Regions from separate parts of the Homo sapiens genome. Here region 1 is linked to region 2. A link means that fine-mapping ties the variant in region 2 to the expression of a gene that starts in the linked region. Tissue or cell type: blood mononuclear cells. Region 2 holds a variant in brackets; the other region holds the start of a gene. All regions are shown on one strand. Distances are between the middles of the regions.

Region 1 (8,336 bases), 42 kb after region 2:
CAATTTTTTTATTCAGAAAACATGATGATTTAAATACATCTGAAGCCATTTCTCCCCCAAAACAACTCTCAAAGCATTCTCAGGAGAGCCAGAGTCATAGCAGTCCTGGGCACAAGGTCCCCTTCTCATGCACAGCTTCAGGCAGCCAGAACCAGGGCTAGTTCAGAGAACTTCAGGAAAACAGCATCAGGATTTCATGGCCCTTAATACTGATTAAGATCAACTAAAAATTATTCTGCCGGTTTGATAAAACAAGAGGAAAGCTAAGATGAATACGCTAGAGAATAAATCTGGGGGACATGAGGAAAAAAAGCCTTTATAACTGCTGAAATAGGACACCTTAATCACAGGGTTTGGCTCAGGCAAACAATTTAATTTTTAAAACAACTAATCTAAGCCAGACATGACCGAAATTCACTGAAACTGGGTTCTAACAGCTCTATTCCAAGGAGGCTAAATGGGCTTTCCTGGTTCCCCCTACACTCAGAACAAACAAAGAAATGTCAATAATCTCATCCTTAAATAACCCATGAGCCAAGAGAACTAAAGATCAAAAGGGAGACTAAAGATCAAAAGATCTGCCTACCTGAAGAATGGCACATAGAATGAATATTTAGATGGAACACTGGGTTAAAGCAGATTTCTCTCCTTCTGAGACAAATCACATTGGGGGTTAAAATATGTCTAGGCCAGGCACGGTGGCTCACGCCTGTAATCCTAGCACTTTGAGAGGCTGAGGTGGGTGGATCACTTGAGGTCAGGAGTTCGAGACCAGCCTGGCCAACATGATGAAACCCTGTCTCTACTAAAAATACAAAAATTAGTCGGAAATCACTTGAACCCGGGAGGCGGAGGTTGCAGTGAGCCAAGATCGTGCCACTGCACTCCAGCCTGGGCAACAGAGTGAGACGAGACTGTTTCAAAAAAAAAAAAAAGTCTAAAACTTAGTTTAAAATACAACATACTTGGCCCGGCGCAGTGGCTCATGCCTGTAATCCCAGCACTTTGGGAGGCCGGGAGTTTGAGACCAGCCTGACCAACATGGAGAAACCCTGTCTCTACTAAAAATACAAAATTAGCCAGGTGTGGTGACGCATTCCTGTAATCCCAGCTACTCGGGAGGCTGAGGCAGAGGAATTGCTTGAACCGGGGAGGTGGAGGTTGTGGTGAGCTGAGATCACGCCACTGCACTCCAGCCTGGGCAACAAGAGCGAAACTCTGTCTCAAAAAAAAAAAAAAAAAAAAAAACCACACCAAAAAATGGTGATAAATGGCCAAAATGTGTATGTGTGCATTTATGTGTGTATGTGTGTATAAAGTGTATCTGAGAAGTCTGATAGGGACAGCTTCCAAGTGGAAAAACTTTATATAATATTATTAGGAGCTGCCTTCTAGCAGTTCAGGCAAGATACGCATGTTCTCCAATGGCACCCACCAGACTGAGAAATGTGATACAAATTAAAAATTCCCCAAAGCAAACCTTTGTCTGAATTGCCCTGACCGTAAGAATCCCATTCTGTTGAGACTTAAGACATTTTCCATTATTTCTCAATTTATAGCATATACTTATTCCTACCTAAAGAAATCACTTTTCTTTTCTTCAAAAAAAGTTAGATCCTGATACAATTAGTATGACATGGAAATTCTTGGGTCATTCATTTATCTTAAGCAGTATTGTTTATGTTAAACTTCTGGCAAAAGAAAGGATAAGGGGTAGCTTTCTTTTGGGTGTGTGGAGCTGGGGCAGGCAGCAGATTTTGACCTGTAAGTATGAACATTTCCAGAATTCTACTCCTATACTTTGAGGCCCTATGGAGGAAAATACACGTTCCCCTCATACATCTGGACAGACTGATTTGTCCTAAGTCATATACAAATTGCTGACAGAGGAACTGATGCTGAATCTATCAGATGACCTAACCACTAATAGTAAATGATTCAGATTTAATAGAAATCATGAAGTAGGGTACAAGGATATTTCTAATTGCATAAGTATCATGGATATTATTTCTTTTGTATTATTTTAATTGACTTCAAATAATTCTTTGGGGAGAGAGAGGAAATAAACTACGGGTATTGACATAAGGTCAGGGAAATCAAACAGAGAAGTGGTTTGCAAGTTGTAATAACACCCCATTGCAAGTTGCAGCCCTGGTGAGGGACCCAAGGCAACAGTGAGTAACACTAATAAATGTCAATCAGAAAAATTTAACAACAAAAGAGGCAGCAAACTGTCACATATGGCAGAATAATCCAGGCTGAATGCTTTGTGAACTTGCATCTGACCATCCATTAATGTTCTAAGGTTGGGGGTATGCGTAGTAGATACAATTAGGAGACTTAAAGCTAAAGAGAAGCATCTCTCAGTTCTTCTCATCCCTTCTAAATCCAGAGGGATTTGATCTTTCATTCACTGGGGGCCAGGGCTGGCAACTACCCATATAAAGTAAGCACCTACTATGTGCCTGGCATCCATGGTCTTAGGCGATGGCTTCCAGGAATTGCCAGGATCCCTGATGGAGGCTCCTTCTGTGCTGCCTGACCTGCTTTGCTCCTGCCACTGCAGACACCCACGCTGCTGCAGACTCCGAGCCACAGCAAGGCTCAGAAGATCAAGGGACCAGTCACAGCAGCCTTTTTAACTTTGGGAAAACCCAATGCTCACTTCACTCAAACGTTGCAAAGTGGTGCCATGACCCTTTAGCTCTTGGCTCACCAATTCAAAGAGCCACATCACATACAGCCCTTAAGCTGCCCACGGCATGATTCCGTGTCTAGTTCCTTTCCAGGTCCCCCCAAGCGGAAGACAGTTCTGGCAGGGAGTCTGGGCAAGATTACTACAATATTTAGCCTTTGTCCCTTCTTTTGCTACGTCTTATTGTAGAATGAGGCACACAGGTCTGAGAGATTGAGTATGCTGGACTTGAGACCTGTACTCAAAAGGTCCCTGCAGGACCGCAGGTCAGCTTAATCCAGCCCAGGAATCTCCATTTCAAAGATGAAGAAACTGAGGTTCAAAGAAAGCAAATCATGGTCTCTACTCAGAGTACTGGAAGGCCTGATATAAACTTAACCCCAATGCCATGCCTCCTGCCTTAGTAAATTTACTGAGCACCTAACCAGTGAGAAATAGGCAGAAGTGAATAAGGCCAGATTTCACTCCCTTCACTACTGGTGTGAATGGATAAAGGTAACTCCACTTTCTCTCTGGGCTTTAGTTTTCTCATCCATTAAGTGAAAGACAAGACTGAATTGGTGATTTCTAATGTGCCTTTAAGCTCTGAAACTCTCATAAGAGTTGAGGATATAATTATGTGTTGGTGTGTGCAAATGTATATGCATCATATATACAAACACAGACACATATATACATATGGTATCTTACAATTAAATACCATTAGCAACCACACATCTTGCCCAATCCCTTCCTGCGACCATGTTTTCCTAATCCCAAACCGAAACTGGACACTGCAACTCATCGTCGCAGCACCTCAGAATCCAGGGGGTGTGGTCAGTGCCCACTGGCGTCCCTCCAAACACCCATGTAAGCGTACTTTAACATGTAAGCGTACTTTACAAGACATATACTAAGTCATTAAATTCCTTGGAAGAAACGGCCAATCTGAGGCAGGGCTGGACTGTGGGTAACAGAACACACCGCAGGAAGCATAAGTTAAAGGTGACAGCCCGTGGCTGCCCAAATTTGGGGCTCCGCTGCCAATGCACCGGGAGGGCAGTGAGTGCCCAGGCTTGGAACAAGCCTGGCTCGGAGCCCACATTTGAGGGCAGGAACCTGCACGCCCGGGTTTGCGCATCCAGCGTGAGCAACTCTGAAAACGTGCAGTGCAGGGCGTGCAGCGGGGCACCGGTCCTGTTTCCTCTCGCACGTGGCGCCTGGCGTGGGGCTGCAGCGCGGGGCCGCAGCGCGGGGCCTCCTCCCCTCCCCGCCCCCCACCCCGCCCCAAGGGCCGGCGCTAGGACCCCGCGAGCCGCACGCACTTCCTGGCGCCGCCGTCCAAGCCTCCCGCTCGGCGCCCCCGGCTCCCGCCCGCCGCCGCCGCCGCCGCCGCCCTACCTGGTGAAGCAGTACTCGCAGTGGTTGCCCCGCTCGTTGACCGTGAGCACGTAGGCATAGGCCGGGCAGGAGAACAGCAAGTCCCCCACCTGGAAGGGCTGCAGAGCCCGCAGCCCCCGGCCTTTGCCCGGGCTGCAGAAGCGCTCCAGGCCGCCGAGGCCCTCGGCCCTCATGGTGGCGGCGGGGCGCGGCCGCCGGCTGTGCCCGAGCTGCGGCTCCCGGCGAGCTGTTATTGGAGACGCGTCACCTAGAGCTGCGGGGGGCGGGGTGGGAGCCGCCCGGCGGACGCGGCGGCGGCTCCCCGCTCCCCGGAAGGGAGGGCGGCCCCGCCCGGGCCTCGCGCGCCCCCGCGGGGAGGGGGACGGGCCCGGCGGCCCCGCCTAGCGCCGCGACCCTCGGCGGCCGCCCCGCGCGCGCTCCGGGCCGTTTCCGGTGTGGCCGCGACAAAGAGCCGCAGCCCCTGTGGCTTCTGCGAGGAGGCGTGAGGCGTGTGCGCCTCCGCGGCGTCTCCACGGAGCGAGCGGGACGCGCCCTCCTCCTCGGTGGGAGGGAGGGGGGTCACCTGCGGGGACCAGGTATCCGAGGGCCACCCCTAGACAGTCAGCCTGGCCCGAAGGATGACCAGCCCCCGGTAAATAGAAGGGGGCGAAGCCAGCTCCGAAACCTTACGTTCGCTGTCCCTTGTAAAGACCCTAGAGGCAGTGATCGGGGAACGCCAAGGAGAAAGCGGCAGAGGGGAAACCACAGTAGAGAAGTTTGGTGTGCAGAGGGTTGAAGTGTGCTTTTCCAAGGTTAGAGGTTTTTAAACCTTGTGGCTTTAATGGGAACGTAGTTTGCCCTCTGCTCCTCTAGTGGAATTACATGGACGGAAGAGGAAATGCATTGGCCGGCCCAGCTCACCGAGTCTCTGAGGCATGCTGCGAACGTTGCAGAGGAAGCCAGAGAGAACCTTGCCTTCAAGGAATTTAGGCTGTTGGGGGATAATGCGATGCTGTGGCCAGTGTCCAGGACACTGCGCTAGAGTTTGCAGTAGTTTTAATATGCTTGACCACCCACGAACTGTGATCTTAGAAAAGTCACTTGGGTTAGGAGTCAAAGGATTTAAAGCCCACAAAGCCTGAAACGTAAATCCTATACACATGCACGCTATTACTTTTCATATGAGAAAGGAAAATATAATCCGTGTTCCACATGATTATGTAAAGACTGGAATTGATGTACATGCAGTAAAGACTAAAATTGTGACGAGATCATTTAGCAGAAACCACTACTTCAAAATAGGACCTCAAACAGTTACCTGTGTAAGTTCAGGACTGGTTGAGCAAAGGGAAAGGATTAATATGATTGGAGATGTAAAATCAGTGGAATTTTTGGCATTTCAGTAAAATGTCTTTATCAGCTGGGTGTGGTGGCTCAGCCCTGTAATCCCAACACTGTGGGAGGCCAAGGTGGGAGGATCATTTGAGCCCAGGAATTGGAGAGTTGGAGACCAGCTTGGGCAACATAAAGACCCCGTCTCTATGGGAAATTAACCACCTCTCAAGTGGTGCTGAGGTGGGAGGATAGCTTGAGCCTGGGAAGTCAAGGTTGCAGTGAGCTGTGGTGACTCCATTATACTCCAGCCTGGGTGACAGAGCAGGACCTTGTCTCAAAAGAAAACAAAAAAGCCCTTATTAGTGGCAAACTAAATAAGCCTCTAACCCGTCTTCAAGTAAAGGAAGTTATGATAGTATTTTCATTTATGCATTTTAAGAAACTTCGACTGACTATGGCCAGCAACTGGGATAGAAAGATGGACATCAGCCGGCTGTGGTGGCTCACGCCTGTAATCCCAGCACTTTGGGAGGCCGAGGTAGGCGGATCACCTGAGGTCGAGAGTTCAAGACCAGCCTGACCAACATGGAGAAACCTCATCTCTACTAAAAATACAAAATTAGCCAGGTGTGGTGGTGCATGCCTGTAATCCCAGCTACTCGGGAGGCTGAGGCAGGAGAATCGCTTGAACCTGGGAGGTGGAGGTTGCTGTGAGCCAAAATCGCACCATTGCACTCCAGCCTGCGCAAGAAGAGCGAAACTCTGTCTCAAAAAAAAAAAAAAAAAAAAAGTGGACAAAATGTAGTCCTAGGTCCTTGCATTTGGCACATTCAAGTTTGATAATACCATTAGTTATTGAGTATTGTTGACCAGGCATCGTGCTCCATCATTAAACACATTATCTGGTTTATCTTTACAACAGGCTAATGAGTTAGGTATTATGCCCCTCATTGCCAAAATTAGGAAGGAAACTAAGACCCAGAAGGAATGATTTTCAAGGCCACACAATAAATTGCAGAATTTGGTTTCCAAGTCAGTCTGAATTCAAGGTCCATGTTCCTAACCACAGTGTTTTGCTGCAAACAAACACAGTTCACTGGGATAAGTGCAGTTATGGTGGCTTGTACAAAATGTTCTGTGGTAGTACAGGCAGGGAGTGACAGCTTTAGCCTGCTAAACAGTCAAGACAGGCATCACATTCAAGTAACGTTAGAGCTGAGCCTGAAGGATGGACAGGATTTTGCAAGTGGAGGTGGGGAGAAGAGTTTTCTGGGCAGAGAGAACTGCGTACAAAGACAGAAGACCCTGAAAGCACAGAGCTTGTAGTTGGGGGCCCCTGAGCATCTGGAAGAGAGGACAGGAAATGAGGCAGGAACAGCTGAAGAGCATCTTCTCCAGAGGTGAGTTCTGCCCCAGAGGCCATGGGAGAGCCAGTTAAAGCGTTTAAGTGAGGGGTGGCACATTGAGTCCAGTGTTTTAGACTGATCTGCCAGCAGCATTGTGGGTTGGCTGGGGTGCCAACATTCAGCACTTCATAACTGTTTACATGTATATAAACAGCCTTGGCATGTGAGACCACTGACAGTTTGCATTTGTCTGTGTGATGACCTGATTAGTGTTTACATCCTCCACCAGACTGTACAAGCTCCATGAGGGCAGGGAATGAGTCTGTTTTTGTTACCCTTACATCACCAGCTCTTATCACTACTCCTGGAACACAGAGAGAATGGAAAAAATATTTAAAGGTTGAATAAACGTCATGGAATCTCATTCTGATTTCTGGGGGCTCTAACCAGCAAAAAGATGAAAAGACTGACGTAGAAGTAAACAATTACAATACAGTAGACAGTTTACTGTTTCAATGATTAATTGTGCAAAGTAATCTACCTGTTTACTTTTTTTATTGCAAGTAACTTTTTCCACTTTAATTGGGAAAGATTTCCACAGCTGAGAAAAAAGCAATTACATAGCTACCGAATTATCTTTCCAGATGAGTGCTGGCTTATTCTTGAGGGTGGAGGTGACTGTGATTTGAGAACACTGGAAAAGAAACCGCCTCATTTCAGAAAAATCCCTGTGATGAACTTAAATGACTCGAGATGGGGAAATGGTCACTGAAGCAGTAGCCATGAATTTAGGAGCTTAAATTACTAAGAAAACTGTGTTTAAAATAAACAGCCAAAGAATGGCAATAAACCAGCCCGGGGAGACTGATGACAGCGCTCTTCATGAAGCCCATACTTGTCACTCTGCCACTCTGTAATCTCACATTCCGTGAAGTCTTTGAGCAGCCAGGACCCATCCACTTTTCCTACGCCCTCTGCTCCATAACGTAGGAGGTATGGAATTTGAAAGGAGTGTTTTTGGTTACTTTGCCTCACTGAAACTCAGGAGAAGTGGTACAAGGACGAAAACTCCTTTGCTTAATTTCTCTAACCTAGAAGTTGATCTAATTTATGAGTAAAAGATCCTTCCAACCACAGATTAGCACATGAAAGAAATAGCTCTGGCCTAGGGAAATGAAGCCTTAGCAAAGAAGGTATCCCAGTGAACGTGAGCAAAGGGCCTAGATGCTGTATAGTTCTGCATCTATGTCTACATGTCACTTATTGAGGACATACTATGTACTTACACTGTGATAGATCCTAGTCATACCAAGGTGTAAAGACCAACATACATGAAAACAGTTATGAAGTGCTGAATGTTGGCACTCATAGATATTAGGTTCCAATCCCTGGAATCTATAAATGGCTTCAAAGGGTCTTGCAAATGTGTTTTAAGGATCTTGAGAGAGTGAGAGTATCCTGGAACATCCAGGTGGGTTCTCTGTGCAGTTGCAAGTTTTCTGATGAAGGACAGAAGGAAATTTGACACAGACAGGAGAGGAGGCAGCAATGTGACTATGGAGGCAGTGATGAGAGGGATACAGTGATGGGCTAAGGAATGC
Region 2 (8,336 bases):
CACTACTTACTTGCTAAGTCAGAGGAACTGAATCTTTGCAAGACATTTTTTAAAAATCTAATAGTTGGCTATCACATTCTAAGAGGTTGTTCTGCATGCACTGATAATCCTATCTACCATCTCACACTTTCACCATATTAAAAACTGAAATCCACAATTCAAGTACTATCTAAGCCAAAACCAAAAAACACACAACAGCAAAAACAACAAATGCCACAAATATTCCTCCCTGATAGAATGCAGCTCTCAGAACCCAATACCCACAGCTAATTGCTACTTCACTATACACTGTCAAACACAGGTGCGTTGTCGCTTTCAAGCAGCTTTTTGTATTAGTGGATTATTTCTCACGTTTTTTTCAGATGTTGAGAAATGCCAGCTTCCTAAGGGAGGAAGGGTGTGTGATCCCCTGAGAGACCCGGAGACACCCGTCTGAGTTTCTCTGCACCTCAATTTCCTCATCTGGAAAATTGGGACATTACTGCTCCTGCTGCTCACTGTCTGCTTTTCAGGGACAGCGAGAAGGAGAGAGAGAGATTCGCCTATGCGAGGTGCTTTGAGCTTTCTGATTATATGAAGGTCAAAGTTCTGAGAACAGAAATTTCTAAACTACAGGGAAAAAGTGCTTGATCTCTGAAAATGCTGCCTTTGAAATCACAATGCTGATATGATTTCAGCCCAAAGGGATTTTTTCCCCCAATTAAAACTGCCCAGAAACTGGGGCTCATGCTCCTACGGGCACTCACAGCCATGTGTGTCATTGCTCTGGTGGCCAATGTCACCTCCCTGACCCTCCAGAGACCACAGCCCCTCTCCTGCTTGCTCCGAGAATACAAAAAGGGAAAGGGGTTTCGAAGCCTGATGAGGATGAACTGCCCCAGGCTGGCTATGGCCTATGGCCAAGTGCACTCCCCCACCTCCTGGCTGCTAAAGGCCTAAGCAAAGTATGTGGTTAGCCTGGTGCCTGAGATAAACAGGTAGCAGCTTCCTGGTCTTGACCTCGGGGAGGGCCACCTCTGCACTGCACCAAGGCCCACTTGGCTTCCTGGAAAGTGATGCCCAAGGAATCAGGTCCTAGGAAATCAAATAAACAAATGCATCGAAGGGTAGTTGTATTAAAATAAAAGCACATTTCTAAAACCATCTTGCGGAAGTATTAAATAGCTGAAGGCAGACTCGGGTATCTCTTTAATGAAGGTGGGGGAAATGCACTAAGTCAAAGACCCTAAAACAATTCATGTTCTTGGTATCATAATTCTGTTGGCAACCACTGACAGGTGAGAATCCTCAAAGCACCTCACTCTTTTTTTTTTTTTTTTTTTGAGATGGAGTCTCGGTTTGTTGTCCAGGCTGGAGTGCAGTGGCGCGATCTCAGCTCACTGCAACCTCCACCTCCCGGGTTCAAGTGATTCTGCTGCCTCAGCCTCCTGAGTAGCTGGGATTACAGGTGTGCGCCACCATGCCCAGCTAATTTTTGTATTTTTAGTAGAGACGGGGTTTCACCATGTTGGTCAGGCTGGTCTCCAACTCCTGACCTCGTGATCTGCCCGCTTCGGCCTCCCAAAGTGCTGGGATTATAGGTGTGAGCCACCACACCTGTAAGGCGTGCCCGGCAGCACCTTACTCTTAATCTTTTAGTCTTTTAAGATATTAAGAACAGAGACATTCCATAGTTCATTTCAGTTATAAAGGTGTCAATACACGCCTTCTTCAGTGGGTCCAATGCCCTCTTTTTCTCCTGCCTTTTCCCAGGGGCCAAAGTTAAAAAAAAAAAAAAAAAAAAAAAGCTTCTTTCCTCACTTCCAGAATTCCAACTGCAGATGATGCCATTTTGGCCCCAAGGACAAATATTACATGAACAAACTTTTTAGTCTCTCTGGTTCAAGTAAACCTGTGACAGCTGCTCACGAGACACAGACTGTACGGATTCTTCTCTTTCTGACCTACACAACGCACAGCGTCTGGCAGAGACGCACATAGCTAAGGGCAGGCACATCACTCAGGGCAAATGCATGAGTATTAAGGGTTTCCTACCTATGTGGCAACCTACAGGCAAAGGCCCCTGCAGTATATGTTAAGCAACCTCCCTCTGGATAGAACTTATCTACAATGTGGATTAATTTGGAGGCTGGGGGGATGCATGATGAATTCCTTGGCTCTATCTGTGAAGCAAGGGTTTGATTTCAGGGACTGAAGCATTTTGGAAATACTCACTCCATGAGACAGACAAAGGCAAAATCATTCTTGGCAATCCATTAAAGTCAGATCTATAAAGATCTCCATTTGTCAACTGGCTAGCCTTTGCTGAATTACTCAAGTATTCTTCAAATCCAGAGAAAATCCTACAGTTCTTTGAAATTTTTATCCGGCCCACTACTTCAGCATATTCTCCCTCCAAATTGTGCTGTTTCTGTACTGGTATTTATCAAAAAGGACAGATGGAGAAGAAGCTCATATAGTCTGTACTCAAGCTTGTGGCCAATTCTTGGTTGGCAATTAATGTTTCACTTTGAGCATAAGAAATGGAAAGATTTCCAGAACCACAGATAGGCAGAAAGCAAATTTCTCAGCAGGGCATGAGCTGTTCCTTCTATGCGCGCTATAAAATATTCTTTAATAACAGCTCTCTGCCTAGCAGGACTTAACAAGCAACTGTTCTCTTAACTACTACCTTTGGATCCTTAAGTGTAGGGGAAATATTTTGAAATCTGGCAGATTAAAAAGCTGTTTTAATTCACTTTGAGTTTCATGTCTGCCACATGCAGTTAGGTGGGTTATTTAAAAATGAAAAAAAAATCAAATTAGTGTTAAGTAAGTAAAAAGGAAAGAAATGAAGTCAAACACAGCCTACTCAGGAAATATCGCTGATCCCAAATGAGAAAGTTCTTCATCTTCAATTGTGAAGCCATTACAGTTAACCTGCAGCAAGAAAAAGGGAGAAAGGAAAAAAATGAGCTGGAGCTTCTTTCTGGGTAGAGATCATTTTTTTAAATTTTGACTTTTAACAAATTAGGAAGATGTTTTGGTGTAGTGGTTTTAAACCCTTTCTTTTGCCCATGTTATCGTTCAAACAAAATTTACTTATCAGTTCCATGCATAAACAAACAAGCAGAATTGTGATGCATCCCTTAGTGTAGCCTACCTACCATCTAAATACAGTGGTCCAGGCACGCCAAAGACCCCCAAGACTCTGAGGACTGACGTTTGCACACTTGCATGGGAGTTAAGATACCTGGAGTCTAATCTCAATTCTGCTACAGCTTTGTTGTATGATCTTAAGCCTATCACTGAATCACTGTGTCTTTAAAGAAAAGAATCAATCTGGCTGGGCGTGGTAGCTCACGCCTGTAATCTCAGCACTTTAGGAAGCTGAGGCGGGCAGATCACCTGAGGTCGGGAGTTCGAAACCAGCCTGACCAACATGGAGAAACCCCATCTCTACTAAAAAAAAATACAAATACAAAATTATCCAGGCGTGGTGGCGCATGCCTGTAATCCCAGCTACTTGGGAGGCTGAGGCAGGAGAATCATTTGAACCCAGGAGGCGGAGGCTGCAGTAAGCCAAGATTGTGCCATTGCACTCCAGCCTGGGCAACAACAGCGAAACTCTGTCTCAAAAAAAAGGAATCAATCCAATGCTCATCTCATAAGGTGAGGTGGTAAATATGAAGCCCTTATTCATCTAATCTAACTGCTATCCCTCTCTCTGTTAGGGAGGCAGAGGGATTGAGGGCTTAAAGCTAAGGCACTGAGACCTTGCCTTTCAAGTCTCAGCCAAATCACCTACAGGCCACCTTCTCACCCTTTAAAAGAAACGTTGTA[C/T]GGGCCCGCTGGCTCACGCCTGTAATCCCAGCACTTTGGGAGTCCAAGGTGGGCAGATCACCTGAGGTCAGGAGTTCAAGACCAGTCTGGCCAACATGGTAAAACCCTGTCTCTACTAAAAATACAAAAATTAGCTGGATCTGGTGGCATGCACCTGTAATCCCAGCTGTTCCATCTACTCGGGAGGCTGAGGCAGGAAGATCACTTGAACCTGGGAGGTGGAGGTTGCAGTAAGCCGAGATTACACCACTGCACTCCAGCCTGGACGACAGTGTGAGACTCCATCTCAAAAAAAAAGAAATGTTGCATAGAAAAATACCAAGGGCAACTTTCACCATTCTGGAAGCCTAACTTAGAACAAGCAGGCTGAAAATGAGGACTATACATGCCTAACTTATGTACTGTTCTATAAACTCATTCTTTCCACAGATATGTACTGGGAGCCCTTACATGCTGGGCACCATGCACAGAAAAACAAACAGAAAGACAAACAGGCTGAAAATTTGTGGCCTCAAAGAAAATCAGACTATTAGGAGACAATTCGGTAGGTGATCTTCATGTCTCTAAAATTTCAGCACTGGAAGAAAACTAAGACTCTACTTTTTAGAGGACGAAACTGAAGTCAGAGAGGAACAATGATTTGTCCACAGTCACAAAGATACTTGGTGACAAAGGCTGAGACCCCTGCTTGTCCCACGCTGCTATGAAGTCTCTGTCCGTGAGGCACTCACACTGAACGATTCCACCCCACTCTCTTCTGCACTTGGGGACACTGCACTGTTACAATTCAGGCCAACAGATGGGCTTTGTAAAACTAGCATCCTCTGAGCACTCACTCTGGGCCAGGCACTGTGCTAGGTACTTCAGATTTACCATCCCATAAATCCGCAATATCACTATAGCATTACTACAGCAACTCATTTTACAGATGTGAAAATTGAGGCTCAGGAAGGTTCAATGATTAAGTGACTTGCTCAAGGATATGTAAATGATAAGTGGCAGAACAGGAGCCAGAATTCAGACTAGGCATTCTGAACAGCAACTCTGGTTTCTTCACACTATACCATGTTCCTTCTAAAATTGGTCAGATCTACTAAATGCTAATGTGGTTATTTTGCTTAACATTAAAGGGCCAAACGCAGGGGCTTGAAAATCTTGGTATACAAAGCAATAAGAGCTATATGATGGGTTTGACTTGCAGTATTTACAATTCAACACAAAAAGCAGAAAATGGGAGGGTACTGTGGATTAGTAAAATAATACATAGGCTTTAAAATCCTGAGGGGTTGGGCATGTGTAAGTAGAAGACTTGGCATATTATTTTTTGTGCCAACTCTAAGTACCCTGACCAATTCTGTCACACAGACATTGACTAACAACCATTAACCAATGACCATCAACCAACATTAGGTAAGAGTAAATTAAAGTTTTCATTCATTCAACAAAATTACCGGAGCATGACCTGTATCCGGTATTATACTGGGTTCTAAATGATCTATGTATCATCTCAGACTGAGTACTACCACGCCTCAGCAGTTTCTGGTACAAATGTTTTCAGAATGAAACAATGAATCAGAAAAATTTGCAACACTTTTCAAAACTGATCTAGGGACAGACAGCTTCTGACTACTTTGGGGATGAGATTCTTGTTTCTCTGCTTTTTCAGTCCCTCCTCTGCAGCAAGCCCACTTAGACCAGTCAGACTCGATCACTTTATGACCATCAGTCCCTTTATTCCCTTCCCGGCTCCTCTTACTGTGGAAGACTGCTTGTGTTTCTTCAAGAGCTAAGGCTCCCATGAGCCTAAGAGTCATTACTGTTCCTTTTGTGATGGTGTTTAAGCCTACTTACATAGCAATTTTCCTGCCAGCTTTCCTTCCCTTCTGAAATATCCCTAGAGAAGAAAAGTGAACTTGCATGTTAAGAAACATGCATGGTCCACAGTCTTTTTTCTGAAGTCAAATCAGGTGTAAGAACCTTGCAAAAGCTATTCTCATAATTAGCATTTAGACTAGATGTAGGCTGCACACCAAAAATACACTTCCCAATCATGCATATGTTCCCAGTGATTAGAACACACCTCGATGCTGTCAAAGATGTGTGGTCACCTTCTGCTGCCAGCTGCTGCCAGGTCTCGAGGTAACCCACAACAGCCTCCCATGGACCAGACGGTGGAAAGGGCTCAGGGGCTGGAACAGCAGACACGTAGCTGCTGGCTGAGAGGTGGGACCGGTGGCATGTGGCTGCAGCAGCACTTTGCATTTCTGCTTTGGAGTTTTCTTTGGGGATAGTAAATGTCCCCTTTCAAATTTACATATGAAAAAATTATATGTGTGTGTATTTGTGTGAACACAAATAATCTCAAAATGTATACTTATTTGTATTCACATGTAATCTCAAAATGTATACTTATTTGATAAAGTCAATAAAGGAATTAATTCTCTATAGTTACGTGTATGTGTGTATGCATATGTGTGTGTATATATATATACATTTTTTAAGGTATATAAATGTTCTGAATTTTCTGAGTCAGTCCATATTTCAAAGAGTCAGTCACTTTCACCACAAATATACTTCTACTTGTGAGATGGAGTCACTTGATTTTTGGTTATGAAAATATGGTCCTGTAACTACGGCATCAACATTGAGAAGTCCTATAAGCATGCATCACTGTGTTAGAGGAAAAGCTATCTTTTTCCATAGCCAGAAAAGTAGATACTTTATGTTTATTTCATCTCTCTGCTTTCTCATATATAAACTAATCCAGAAAAAATTATGTATTCATTTTTTCAGAAAATGTAAGAGAAGTTGATTCCTCACTTCCCATTGTCAGCCAAATCTATTGTCTCAGGATACTTAGGTAAGTACAATTTAAACCCAGGATAATATGAAAATTAGAAAGGTCTTTTATTCCTTCTACCTTAACACTCAAAACTTGAAGCCACCTTTTCACCTACAAGGAATCGCATATTTTTCTGATTATGACAGTCACATAACTGAAATATATCTAAATAAAGTTTATAAAAGAATTCAATAAATTGTTAATAGTTGTTCACAGTTGGGGGGAAGCTGAAGTGGGCAGAAGTGATGAATGACTCACTTTTTTTCTTTATAGACAGGGTCTCTCTCTGTTGCCTAGGCTGAAGTGCAGTGGTTTGATCACAGCTTACTGCAGCCTCGAACTCTTGGGCTCAAGTGATCCTCCTACCTCAGCCTCCTGAGTAGCTGGGACTACAGACACACGCCATGGTGCCTGGCCACTTTCTTTATGTGTGTAATTTTTAAAGTGTGTGCTTTTTGCCTTTTTCTCCTTCTTAGCATGCTTTTTGTAAGTTATACATGCTCACTGTAGAAAATCCAGAAAGTCACCCAGTAAAAAGCCTAAATTTTTCCACAACTCGGAAGACAACTGTGAACTTCCACTTAATCTTTACGTTATGTATGTGTGTTTTCGTATTATACCCTTTTTTCATACTTTTCATACTGCTTTGATACTTAATGTTATGTCATCAGCATTTCCCAAGTTTAGACAGTCGTGAAACGTAACTTATAAAGGTTATGTAACCTTCCATCACATGGAGATGCCATAATTTATGTAACCAAACTCCCACTACTGGCCATTTATAGTATTTCCTTTTCCTCTTTCCTTTTCTTCTTCCCTTCCTCCTCTCCTTTCCTCCTTCCTTCTTTCTTTTCTGCCTTTGGCTTTTAAAAGAATCCTACAATAAACAATTTGTACGTAAATCTCTGTCCATGATTTCTGATTATATCCTTAGGACAGATTCCTGCAAACAGAGTTACTGGGCAAAGGGTACATTAGGTAATGCTTATTCTATTCTAAGACAAAACCATGGAGGTGTCCACTTCATCTCTTTTACACATCCGGAGACTGATGTAGCTTCTTGCTCCCATGGAGCAGAATTCTAATATTTCTCTACCTGGGAAGGTCACTTTAAACTAGATGCCCAGTTTGTAGAGGGCATCGCAAAGGCATATGAGAGAGAAATCCAATCTAGTAAGTCAGGCCAGGAAGAGCCACCCTCACGATAACAGGAAGGTTGTGTGTTCCCCGAGGCATGGCCACTGCACCCTTTGTTCTCTCGTCCTAACAATGCCCAAGGCTTGCCTTGCCAGTGGCCTAGTTTCCAAAGCTGTAATCACTTTCAAATTGCTCTTGCTTAGAAGCCTAAGATTTCCTTAGATCTGATTTTGGTAAACCTAGACTTCTCTAAACAAGATTTCTTAGCCACCATCAGGAAAGACTTCCACATCTAGACCCACTTGGGCTCCTCTCGGCAGTGACTGTCCTTCCTCGGGCCATCACAAAGGGCCCTCCTATCAGTGCAGCCTTGGTTAGAGTGAAAAAACACTACAGATAGAACAGAAGGTTTAAGAGAGTAAAAGTAAAATTTAATGTAGGAACTTCAAATGGTCTTTTCTTTGCAAAGAGCTTAAAGTATGCCAGAGTACCAGGGCACTGACAACTCCTTTGTTTTCATGAACTCTTTGTGAGG

Evidence for each region. PIP is the estimated chance that this variant, and not a neighbour inherited with it, causes the effect.
Region 1: SMYD2 starts here. The variant in region 2 is fine-mapped to the expression of SMYD2 in blood mononuclear cells (TOPMed, PIP above 0.99). The same link has a PIP of 0.9 or more in whole blood.

What each region holds. Positions count from the first base shown.
Region 1 is chr1:214,277,167-214,285,502 of GRCh38, reverse strand. It overlaps SMYD2 (SET and MYND domain containing 2), which reads right to left and starts at 4,344. Exons shown (of 12, transcript NM_020197.3): 1 at 4,076-4,344. The coding sequence starts at 4,248. LOC124904509 (a long non-coding RNA gene) reads left to right here and starts at 4,467. Exons shown (of 2, transcript XR_007066876.1): 1 at 4,467-6,789. RefSeq lists silencers at 3,925-4,084, 4,115-4,234, 4,255-4,544 and an enhancer at 4,824-5,389.
Region 2 is chr1:214,319,224-214,327,559 of GRCh38, reverse strand. It overlaps SMYD2 (SET and MYND domain containing 2), which reads right to left. Exons shown (of 12, transcript NM_020197.3): 6 at 2,852-2,919. Among named protein-coding and RNA genes, the nearest start is that of SMYD2, 42 kb to the right of the region's middle. The variant C/T (reference allele first, on the strand shown) is at 3,823.